Linked DNA regions of Homo sapiens: region 1 is linked to region 2. Evidence: fine-mapped expression QTL. Tissue or cell type: whole blood. Region 2 holds a variant in brackets; the other region holds the start of a gene. All regions are shown on one strand. Distances are between the middles of the regions.

Region 1 (5,387 bases), 22 kb before region 2:
TTGAATCAAGTGAGGGGGCCCATTTGAGTCTATGTGTTATTATTTGTCATGTTGTTGTGACCTATGAAAAACAGTTTCTCAGGTCCTCTACATGCTACAACCTCCCCGGGCTCAGGCAATCCTCCCACGTCAGTCTCCTTTCAGAGAAGCTGGGACTACAGGCACATGCCACCACGTCCAGCTAATTTTTGTATTTTTTGTAGAGATGGGTTTTCACCATGTTGCCCAGGCTGGTCTCAAAATCCTGGGCTCAAGTGATCAGCCCGCCTCAGCCTCCCAAAGTGCTGGGATTACAGGTGTGAGCCACCACGTCCAACCTTAATGCTAGCTGTTAAACTGTCTTTCAGGGGAGGCCATTTTAAAATGAAATCTTGGCTCTGTTTTCAGTGATAATTTCATAGTTCTAAACCCCAATTAATTCTGAATTGCTCCAGCTTAAGCATGTAGTTACATAGAGAATGTGCCTATTTCTATCTCAGGCAAATGGTGATTGTCCTATTGGTAACATGACTTCATTGTCATTTTTTTTCTCTGGAGACTACTGTGAGGATTCACATTACTAATACTTGTGCAGGCCTCACTCCTTAATTTAACAAGCAATGTCAATACAATATTTTTTCTTTGCACAGATATAAGACCTTTTTATTTTAAAACTGCAAATTCAACTCAAAGATTGCAAGATCAAATTTTGCATCTTAAAAAAATACTACCATAAACAAAGCCCACATTATAATCAGAATCCTACTTTCTTTTCTGCATAAAGCAGCATAGAACAACGGTCATTTATAGATACATGAATTCCAGGAAGCTAAACAAATAAGAATTTGTACTATAAGTAAAGTAGGTTATATAAATTTTAAATGAAGGAAAAAACACCAAATTAAGGACAAAAATTATCTTTTTCCTTCTTTGAATTGCACTCCTTGAAATAATATAAAAAAACTCCCAAAATCAAATATTAAAAAATAATTTGTTTAGGCCGGGCGCGGTGGCTCACGTCTGTAATCCCAGCACTTTGGGAGGCCGAGGCGGGAGGATCACGAGGTCAGGAGATCGAGACCATCCTGGCTAAGACGGTGAAACCCCATCTCTACTAAAAATACAAAAAATTAGCCGGGCGTGGTGGCGGGCGCCTGTAGTCCCAGCTGCTTGGGAGACTGAGGCAGGAGGATGGCGTGAACCAGGGAGGCGGAGCTTGCAGTGAGCCGAGATCCAGCCACTGCACTCCAGCCTGGGCGACAGAGCGAGACTCCGTCTCAAAATAGAAATAATAATTTGTTTAAATGCGTTTACAAATAATTTTCCCCGGTAAAACACAGGGAAGATCAACCAATAAATACATAAGCCCTCTTGTTTCAAACCTCGTTGCTGAAAATAATTGTAAGTGTACTAGTATTTACTACATTGGTGAGTGCCTGGTGATACCTTCCACTTCCATGATCTTTGCCCTGTATTGTATCTACGTGTAGATGAGGTGATTGTCAAAAATATATACTGACTTCAAGACATAGTGTTGACTGAGGTTGTCTTTATTAGAAGTCTCAGCCATGCCTCCAGTTTCGAGATGAATCTCAATTCACAAGTTCCACTATGAATCTCAATTCACAAGTTCCACTACCACCACCACCATCACTGCCCCCAGATAGAATGAGACTTCTAATAACTTGAAAGACAAGTCTATAAATATCCTGTAATCGTTTTCACTGTATCACTTTTTCCTGGCTACTTTTATCCGATAAAAACCTCAATTTATTTTTAAGCTATTAAACATGCGGACAAAGGGAATCTTAGTTTTATGCAAAAACGCAACCACGCATGAGAACTGCGCAAGTCTTTCTTGGAATGGTCTGTATTTGGGTGAAGTCATCAGACGTCATTACACTTCTTTATTTTGGGGTTGCCAACTCGTTTCCCAGGATTTAAAGACTATAACGATGATAAAAGTCAGTGTCGCACCCTGTCAAAGGCTTGGCCCGTTGCCTTTTCCTTCCCGGCAATACTCGGTTCAATTAGGTCTTGTCCCCTCATTATCTGTGAGGACTGAATTCCACCCCCGCTTTTCAACGCAGGCTCTTTGCTCGGGAAAAGTCAAACCATCTCTCAAAGGATCAAAGAGCTCAGCCATAGACAGAGCCGCCGGAGGAAAGCGGAGTCGCTGCATCAGATGAAAGGGGCCCCTCAGCCTCACTCCTCACCGCAGCTCCTGGGATCTTAAAGACAGGGTCAGGAGGATCAGGAGGGACAAGAGGGATGGAGGCGAAAGGCTGGATCCTTAATCCAGGCCGGAGACAAAGGTGAGTAACTGCGCGTGGTGGACGGGAAGATGGGCAGTAGGAGGCTCCTCGCCCCCTAGCCGGGTGGCGTGACTTCAGGAGGACCCAGAAAACCGGCCAGGACTGGGTAGGACGGAAGGTCCCAGGCGGGGCGGGCGAACCGGCTCCTCGTGGCACTGGCAAAGCTGGGAACGCCCCCTCCAGGCCCCGCCCTCCCGCGCCCGTGCCGGGAACTCGAACTTAGGTAAGCGCCCGGGTCACGCGCCGGGGCTGCCCCGCTGCCTCCAGCTTCCCAGAGCTGGCGTCTGGGAGGAAGAGCGCGTGCATCACGTCCTCCTCCCCGCCCCGCCTCCGCGCACTGCGCAGCGCGCTGCCGCGCCCCGCCCTTTCTCGGCCCCCGGAGGGTGACGGGGTGAAGGCGGGGGAACCGAGGTGGGGAGTCCGCCAGAGCTCCCAGACTGCGAGCACGCGAGCCGCCGCAGCCGTCACCCGCGCCGCGTCACGGCTCCCGGGCCCGCCCTCCTCTGACCCCTCCCCTCTCTCCGTTTCCCCCTCTCCCCCTCCTCCGCCGACCGAGCAGTGACTTAAGCAACGGAGCGCGGTGAAGCTCATTTTTCTCCTTCCTCGCAGCCGCGCCAGGGAGCTCGCGGCGCGCGGCCCCTGTCCTCCGGCCCGAGATGAATCCTGCGGCAGAAGCCGAGTTCAACATCCTCCTGGCCACCGACTCCTACAAGGTAAAGCTCGGGGCCCGGGCAGATGAGGAGGAGCGGGGCGCGCTGGGGACGAGCGCGCGGCAGGGGGGCGGGGGCGGCTGGGGCTGGGGTTGGGGCTGGGGCTGGGGCTAGGGTCGCGGCGCGGGGAGGCCCGGGGGAGGCGCGGGCGGCGGCGGCTGGGGCAGGTGAGGAGGCGCCGCAGTGGGCAGGAGGTGGCTTGAGGAGGATGGAGGGCTGGGCGGTGGAGGCGGGGCCTGGGGGCGCGCGGCGGCGGCGGCGCGGCGGGGGGCTGAGGCGGGCCCCAGCGGACTCCCGGGCGCCGGTGCTCGGGGCTCGGGGCTCGGGGCTTGGGCGTCGCCGGCGAGCGCATGCCCTTCCCTGAAGCGCGGCCTCTTGGCCTGGAGCTGGGACCAGTTAGGTAACGGCCCCGGGGACCCGCAGTGGAGAGTGAGCGGGGCTTTCCCCCGGGCCAGCCCGGCGCGCTCGCCCCTGGCTGGGCAGGTAAGTCTCCCGGGGCGCGAGGTGGGAGAAGTCCTGGCGCGGGCGCCGGAGCAGCCGCGGTCCTCTGCGGCTCCGGCGCGGAGGACACTCGCCTGGCCCCGGTAGCCGTAGTGGATTCCCCTGTCCCACTCCGCCGGGCTCCGTTTCAAACTCCTTGGCACCTAGTGATTGCTCGTGCTCCTTATCCCTGGGTGTAGAGGCCGCTCTGCTCTTATCTGCTTTAGGGTCATTACAGGATTTCTGTGAAAAGGAAAATGAAACACGAGGATTTAAAGGAACTGTAGTTTTAACCCTAGAGAACATGTGGAGAGGGAAATGGCACAGCGTTGCGTTCACATGCCCATTGAACACTTGTGTGGGTAGCTGCCACATTCAGTTGATATGAAGCACGCAGTAGTGAAGGGAAGAGGTAAAGTAAATTTTACTTGAGCAGCATAGTGGTTTGGAATACAGTGGTAAAACATAGTACTCTCATGTTTTTGTTTTGATTCTTTTTTTTTCCTTTGTTTTTAGCCCTCCTCCGATATTCCGAGAAAGTATTTTAGAGAATTCCATTTTACTTAAGTTTTGTCTGTTTTTTTCCAATCAGCTTAAAATGCTGTTTATGATATTTAGATAGGTTCTTGAAATCGAGCCAAGATCCATCAACAAGTTGTCTTTTAGATGCAAGTTTAAAGTATTGCAAAATCCGAACACTATCAAGTATGATTCTTGAATATTGTCAAGTATACGTGATAATACCTCAAGTATGGTCCTTTACTTGGTCCTAAAACCTCCTCTTGTGTTCTCTTGGTTCAATCATAGTGTTTTCAAAATTTTAAATAGTGATTTTAGAATAGCCTCATTGATAGTTTTGTAGAATTTTTTTCTTAACTAAATCTAAAATAACTGTCAGATTTTTTTTTTACATGTTAGCCAAATGTAAAGGGAGGTTGAATAGTCTAAATTTTAAAAACAGAAGAATGCAACTTCCTTTAGTTTGCAGTTCCTCTAACCATTATACATAAGGAATGTAAAATTACTTTAACATCAGTTTTCTGGGGTGCTTTTAGTTAGAATAGTGAATTATCTTAAAGGTTTCTAATCTAGTGAGCCATACTTAATTGCACTATTAGAATTTGCACCTATTTAATAAATTTTACTTCTGTCAACTTTCAAGTCAGACTGGTGTGTTTTATATCCTTTATAATATGAAACTTCAGAATATTTTCATCTTAGATTTTTCATTTTTTCCCCAAAAGTCACCTCTAGAGGGTTCAATCAAGTCGATATGTTTTATACCAGTGGCTTACCGCAGTATGCTAAAATAGATTGTGTATTCCACAGTCACATTTAAGTCTTAGGTTTCATTTCCCTTATGTTTTTAGGGGTCCTTATAACCTATTTTACATTTTTGTCTTTTTATCTTAGGAAAAAGGACAAAAATGATAATCTTGAGGTTAGAAGTAATGAAACTTATTTAGAAATTACACGAGAATGTTACATATCCTTATCAGTGCTTACAAACTATTGGCCAAAGTTGGGAACTCTAGTAGTTTCAGATGTGTTGATGAAGAGAGCAAAATATTGTTGATTTCTTCTTTCTAAAACTGAAGAAAGAATAATTGATTGCCTAAGCACTACGAAAGTTATTTTGCAAGTAGATGGTATGGTAGCAAGCACATGACAATGGGAGTTTTGTTTTGTCTTGTATCCTGTCAAGAGAGTCCAGAACTATTTGGACCAAAGGAGCATTTGAAGTATATACATTCACTTCTGTAAACTCATACTTTATTGTATATAGTAAGGAATTAAGGACACTGACGACTGTGGTTCCTCTATTTTCATCGTGGTTCTTGTTAGAAGTAAGGACACCGTTTAAACCGCATTATCCATTAGTTATGAAATGTGCTGTCCGGTG
Region 2 (5,387 bases):
TTGAGTGTTTCACACAAGGTATGTTACAGAAGACAAGTGCCTAAGTCAGAACTATGAGAAATATTGCCATCTGACAGGTTAGATTAAAGAAGGAGAGCACAGCATCTGGGAAGACTGAAAAGGGAACCATAGAAATAGGGGAAAAAAGGTGAAACATGGGAGATGTCATTGAAGTCAAGAGAAAGAAAGCATCAGGAAAATTCAGGTGTCATGGAGAAAGCAAGTAAGATGGGGACAGTGAAGTTTGCTAGACATGATACAAGTAGATCGTTAGGTGACTTACTGATACAACGTTATAAGTAGTGACCCCTTAACTGTAGGAGTTAATTCATACGTTGTAAAGTTCTCCAGTATTGGTATTCATTGATCTTAATTCTCTCCTTTTTAAAGAGAAAAGTTGCAGACCTGAATATGAAGAGGAGCTTCTCTTCAGTCATATCTTAATTTTCCATTTAGCCTACAGATGCATGAAGTAGAGAATTGACATCATAGCTACTGGCAGCCTCTGTAGCTGTTAAGAAGAGTGTTCACTAATGAGTTTTATATAAACAGGTTCTCTCTCAATTTTGGATTCGGGTAGTAGTCTTTACAATCTTGAAATGTGCATGCTGCACTACCCCAGGTATACCATTGACAGTATGGGGAAAGGTTCTAAGTCTAGTCCTTTAAAAAAAAAAACACACACACACATTGTATAAAGTGATTATTTCAGACATAAAGTCTGACTCTTCAAACAGTTATGAGTTAAACTTATACCTACTTGGGCTTTATAATAAATGAATGTGCTATCTTTTTATTATTTACTGAGGAGAACAGATTAGAGGCGGACTAGAAAATTAGGGAGAATGACCAATTGCTTGGCATAATTAAATGGTAATTTTCAAAATTAAGTTGTTTGAGATCTTTTAAAATTATTTACATTATATATTAACAAATATTTACACAGGTTGAGCATCCCAAATCCAAAATGCTCCAAAATCTGAAACTTTTTGCTCAAAGGAAATGCTCATTGGAGCATTTCAGATTTCAGAACTGGATTTCAGATTTCAGAACTGGGGATGCTTAACTGATAAGTATAATGCACATATTCCAAAATCTGAAAAAATTTGAAATTCAGAATACTTCTGGTCCCAAGCATTTCAAATAAGCGATACCCAATCTATAATTACATATTGAATACAAATCTATCCCGTAAGAACTGATATTAAGGACATTGCAAAAATCACTATAACCATTCTTATCCAATAGAAACTCTCATACTTTATTTTCCATCTTAATTATGTTTTGCTTAAACTAAGTATTTGAATTCTTATTCCCTGGGCATATATTAATTCGTAGTAGATAATCTGCAAACAAAATACATGACTTCCTATTACTAGCCACTTGAAAATATAACAGGTAGTTGACTATATGTATGTATGGTATAGTATAAATAATTGCCTCTAAGTATAAGATTTTGAAAGGTAAAAAAACAAAATGTATGTCTGTACTATTATTGGTATATAGTTTCAAAAATTCACAGAAGGGAGCCAGGTGCTCTCATTGCCTAACAAAATAATGGAAATATGTATTCATTCTAACATCTTGACATACAGTATAAAGGGCACTCAGCAAGTGCTTTTTAGTTAGACTGATTTTAAATGAGTAGATTCAGGAATACCAGAAAACACACACACACACAGATAATTGGTTGAAAATACGAGGTTAGAAACTTAACCATTGAAGAGGAGTAAGGCTACTTAAAGCGTTAAAAACTAATTGGGTAAGGTATGGTTGACCCAGCTACTTCATTTGCCTTACGATGTATATTCATTAAACTAAGTCACTCACCTTCTCTGTGATGTTGATGGTTTGGTATAGTAAACATGAGATATGATTAAAGGTGATTCAGGGATAGATCAAGTGTCTGCCTAAGTAAATCTGTGTTTTCATTTTTTTTTCTAGTACCATAACAGCTTGGGGGAAAGACCATGAAAAAGATGCTTTTGAACATATTGTAACACAGTTTTCATCAGTGCCTGTATCTGTGGTCAGCGATAGCTATGACATTTATAATGCGTGTGAGAAAATATGGGGTGAAGATCTAAGACATTTAATAGTATC[A/G]AGAAGTACACAGGCACCACTAATAATCAGACCTGATTCTGGAAACCCTCTTGACACTGTGTTAAAGGTAAATTTTCATATGTAACTTTATTATTAGAATCCCTCTGTAGGCCAGCTGCATCAATACTACTTTTCATTTATATACACACAATTTCAGAGCTGTGTGGACCAGTCCCCTTTATTTTAGAGTTGCAGCCCAGAGAGAGTAATAGATTTGCCTGAGGTCACACAGTAATAGCACAGAAGGATACCAAGACTTATGGATTGTTTTACTGTCAATTAGACATTTGAATAGATATTTTGTTTTCTGCTTACCTGCAAAATTAATTAACAGCATTGCCATTTTAATTAATCCTATGATTTGGGCACCAAACTTATTTGCAGTTTGTTTCTTTTTCAGCATAAGTCACTGCTAGACCTTTGAAGTTGTTAGCACAGAAGAAATAGGAACAGGGTGATGTGGAATAAAAATAATTCAAAAATACTCTTCAAGTGGAGGTTCTTTAGAAATACTGTTGATTCATAATGTAGCAGTGTTACTTTTTGTTGTTAATGTTCAAGGACTTGGTTTATCTTCTTCAAAAAGTAGTAATAGCAGGCTTATTTGATGCCTACTACTAGAAAAATATTTTAGGTGATTTACATAAGATACGCCATTTAATCTCTACAAAAAAAAACAGTGATAAATATTACTGTCTCTGTTATAGAAGAAAAAAACAGAGGCTTAAAAAGGTTAAAGTAACTTGCTCAAGGTCACACAACATGAAAGATAAGGAGTCAGATATCCAGTGTAGGTCTTTTGGCTGCAGCCTTGCTACTTGACCACACCATTTGTCAGTTAATGAGCAGATGATACTTACCCCTTAAGAAAGGGAAACAGAATTAAGGAGGTCTTTTCTTATTCTATTAAATGATAGGCCAATCTGAAAGTCTTGTCTTAGCCTGCAATATTTGGTTTTAGCAAACTTGATAGGTTTCATGTTTTTACTGTTACGTAATAAAAAATGTACACAGCTAGTTATGAGAAACTGATTTCATCAATGGGGAATTTTCTCTTTGTTAGAATCTTTAATCAGTTTATTTAGGAAAAAGAAATGATTGTTGTGGGAAGAGAATGTATTTCTTTTGTTTATATGACCAAGCTTTCTGAGAAATTTTAATTTGGTGTACAAAACTTTTAGTAGTTAGTGAATGAGTAAGATGATTTGTGTATTGTGCAGTTTGGCTTTAAGAGCAAAGGAGAACTTAGAGACTATGGGTTCTAGATGCTGTGTCTGCCTTTCACAGTTTCTCTGAACTTTGTGATTGAACTGGATTCATATTGGAGTTATATATCAGACAAAAACCAAAGTCATTGGGCACAAGCAGAATAAGTCCAAATTAAAAGTATAATCATGAGTTTGTTAAATAATGCTTTATATACTTCTTTAAAATATACTTATTTAATATTAAGGATTTTTTTTTCCTTGAATCCATATAATTTGAAAGGTCTAAGGGGAAAAACTTGTTTTGAGCCACTTTATGATGTGAATTCACTTCATAGGAAATAACATGCTTGTTTTTAATGTACTTTAACCCTTTAAAGTACACTGGACCAAATTTTAGAGAGCATATACATAGTGTTATAAAATTTTTAAAGTAGTTAATTTTTATATTCTCGATTATCAAAGCAAAATCATTTAACTTTGAAAAGCTCTTATACTTGTTTTCAGCTTTAGTTATTTGTGTTGCATGTGTATTTTTCCATATAGGTTTTGGAGATTTTAGGTAAGAAGTTTCCTGTTACTGAGAACTCAAAGGGTTACAAGTTGCTGCCACCTTATCTTAGAGTTATTCAAGGGGATGGAGTAGATATTAATACCTTACAAGAGGTATGTGTTTTATATTAAAAGTTTCAATAAGGCATTTCTTATAATTAAGTTTGTTTATGTTTGATAAAGAACACAATATAAATACAATTTTAAGTCTTTGTAAGTGTTTATGTTGGTATAAATCTCTGTGCATTGCTTAAAGTTTAGAAATAATAGTAGTTTAAAATACAGAGGTGCCAGCCAAGCCATACTTACTCTTCCAGTTGTCATTGGCCACCCTGAATGATGAATCTAAAGAAGTATCATTGTGAAACAAGGAAATGTCAGTCAAGAAATATTCCTTGGAATATAAAACAAAGCCTTGACTCTGCTGGCATAGGTCTGAGTTTTCATAGACTGGAGCTTCACAAATCTGTAAAACTCATAATATTAATGGGTGCTTTTTCAGAAATTATAGAATAGCTGCCACCTCTTCTAAATTAAGCATTGACTGTCATCAGTATTAGATTTAGCCAGATAGTATAAGTGTTATGCAGGCGTACCTCATTTTATTGTGCTTTGCAAACATTGCATTTTTTTACAAATTGAAGGTTGTGGCCACCCTGTGTTGAGCAAGTCTGTTGGTGCTATTTTTCCAACATGTATTCACTTCATGTCTGTGTGACACATACTGGTAAATTCTCACAATATTTCAGACTTTGTCATTATATCTGTTATGGTGATCTGTGATTAGTGATCTTCGATGTTACTACTGTGATTGTTTTAGGGCACCACAGGGCACACCCAGATAAGGCAGTGAACTTAATTGATAAATACTGTGTGTGTTGTGACTCCTTCACCAGTTACCCATTCCCTTTCTCTGCTCACTTCAAGTTTCCCTATGCCCTGAGACACAACAGTATTTAAATTAGGTCAATTAATAACCCCACAGTGGCCTCTGAGTATTCAAGTGAATGGAAAAGTCACATCCCTCTCATTTTAAATCAAAACCTAGACATGATTAAGTTTAGTGAGGAAGGCATGCTGAAAGCTAAAATAGGCCTCTTAAGGCAAACAGTAGGCCAAGTTGTGAATGCAAAGGAAAAGTTCTTGAAGAAAAATCAAAGTGCTACTCCACTAAGCATATGAATAAGAAAGTGAAACAGCTTTATTGCTGCTAGGGAGAAAGTTTGAATGGTCTGAATAGAAGATCAAAGCAACCACAACATTTCCTTAGGCTAAAGCCTAATCCAGAGCAAGGCCCTCGTTTCAATTCTGTGAAGCCTAAGAGAGGTGATGAAGCTGCAGAAGAAAAATTGGAAGCTAGCAGAGGTTGGTTCCTGTGGTTTAGGGAAAGAAGCCATCTCCATGAGTGCAGAATGAAGCAGCAAGTGCTGATGTAGAAGCTGCTGCAAGTTACCCAGAAGATCTAGCTAAGATCATTGATGCAGGTGACTAAACAGATTGTCAGTGTAGAGGAAACAGCCTTCCATT

What was found.
Region 1: NAMPT starts here. The variant in region 2 is fine-mapped to the expression of NAMPT in whole blood (TOPMed, PIP above 0.99).

What each region holds. Positions count from the first base shown.
Region 1 is chr7:106,282,448-106,287,834 of GRCh38, reverse strand. NAMPT (nicotinamide phosphoribosyltransferase) reads left to right here and starts at 2,852. Exons shown (of 11, transcript NM_005746.3): 1 at 2,852-3,007. The coding sequence starts at 2,951. NAMPT-AS1 (NAMPT antisense RNA 1) reads right to left here and starts at 2,589. Exons shown (of 1, transcript NR_186647.1): 1 at 1,509-2,589. RefSeq lists silencers at 2,353-2,892, 3,163-3,522.
Region 2 is chr7:106,260,175-106,265,561 of GRCh38, reverse strand. NAMPT (nicotinamide phosphoribosyltransferase) reads left to right here. Exons shown (of 11, transcript NM_005746.3): 7 at 1,945-2,170; 8 at 3,855-3,974. Among named protein-coding and RNA genes, the nearest start is that of NAMPT, 22 kb to the left of the region's middle. RefSeq lists enhancers at 4,511-5,035, 5,036-5,387. The variant A/G (reference allele first, on the strand shown) is at 2,104.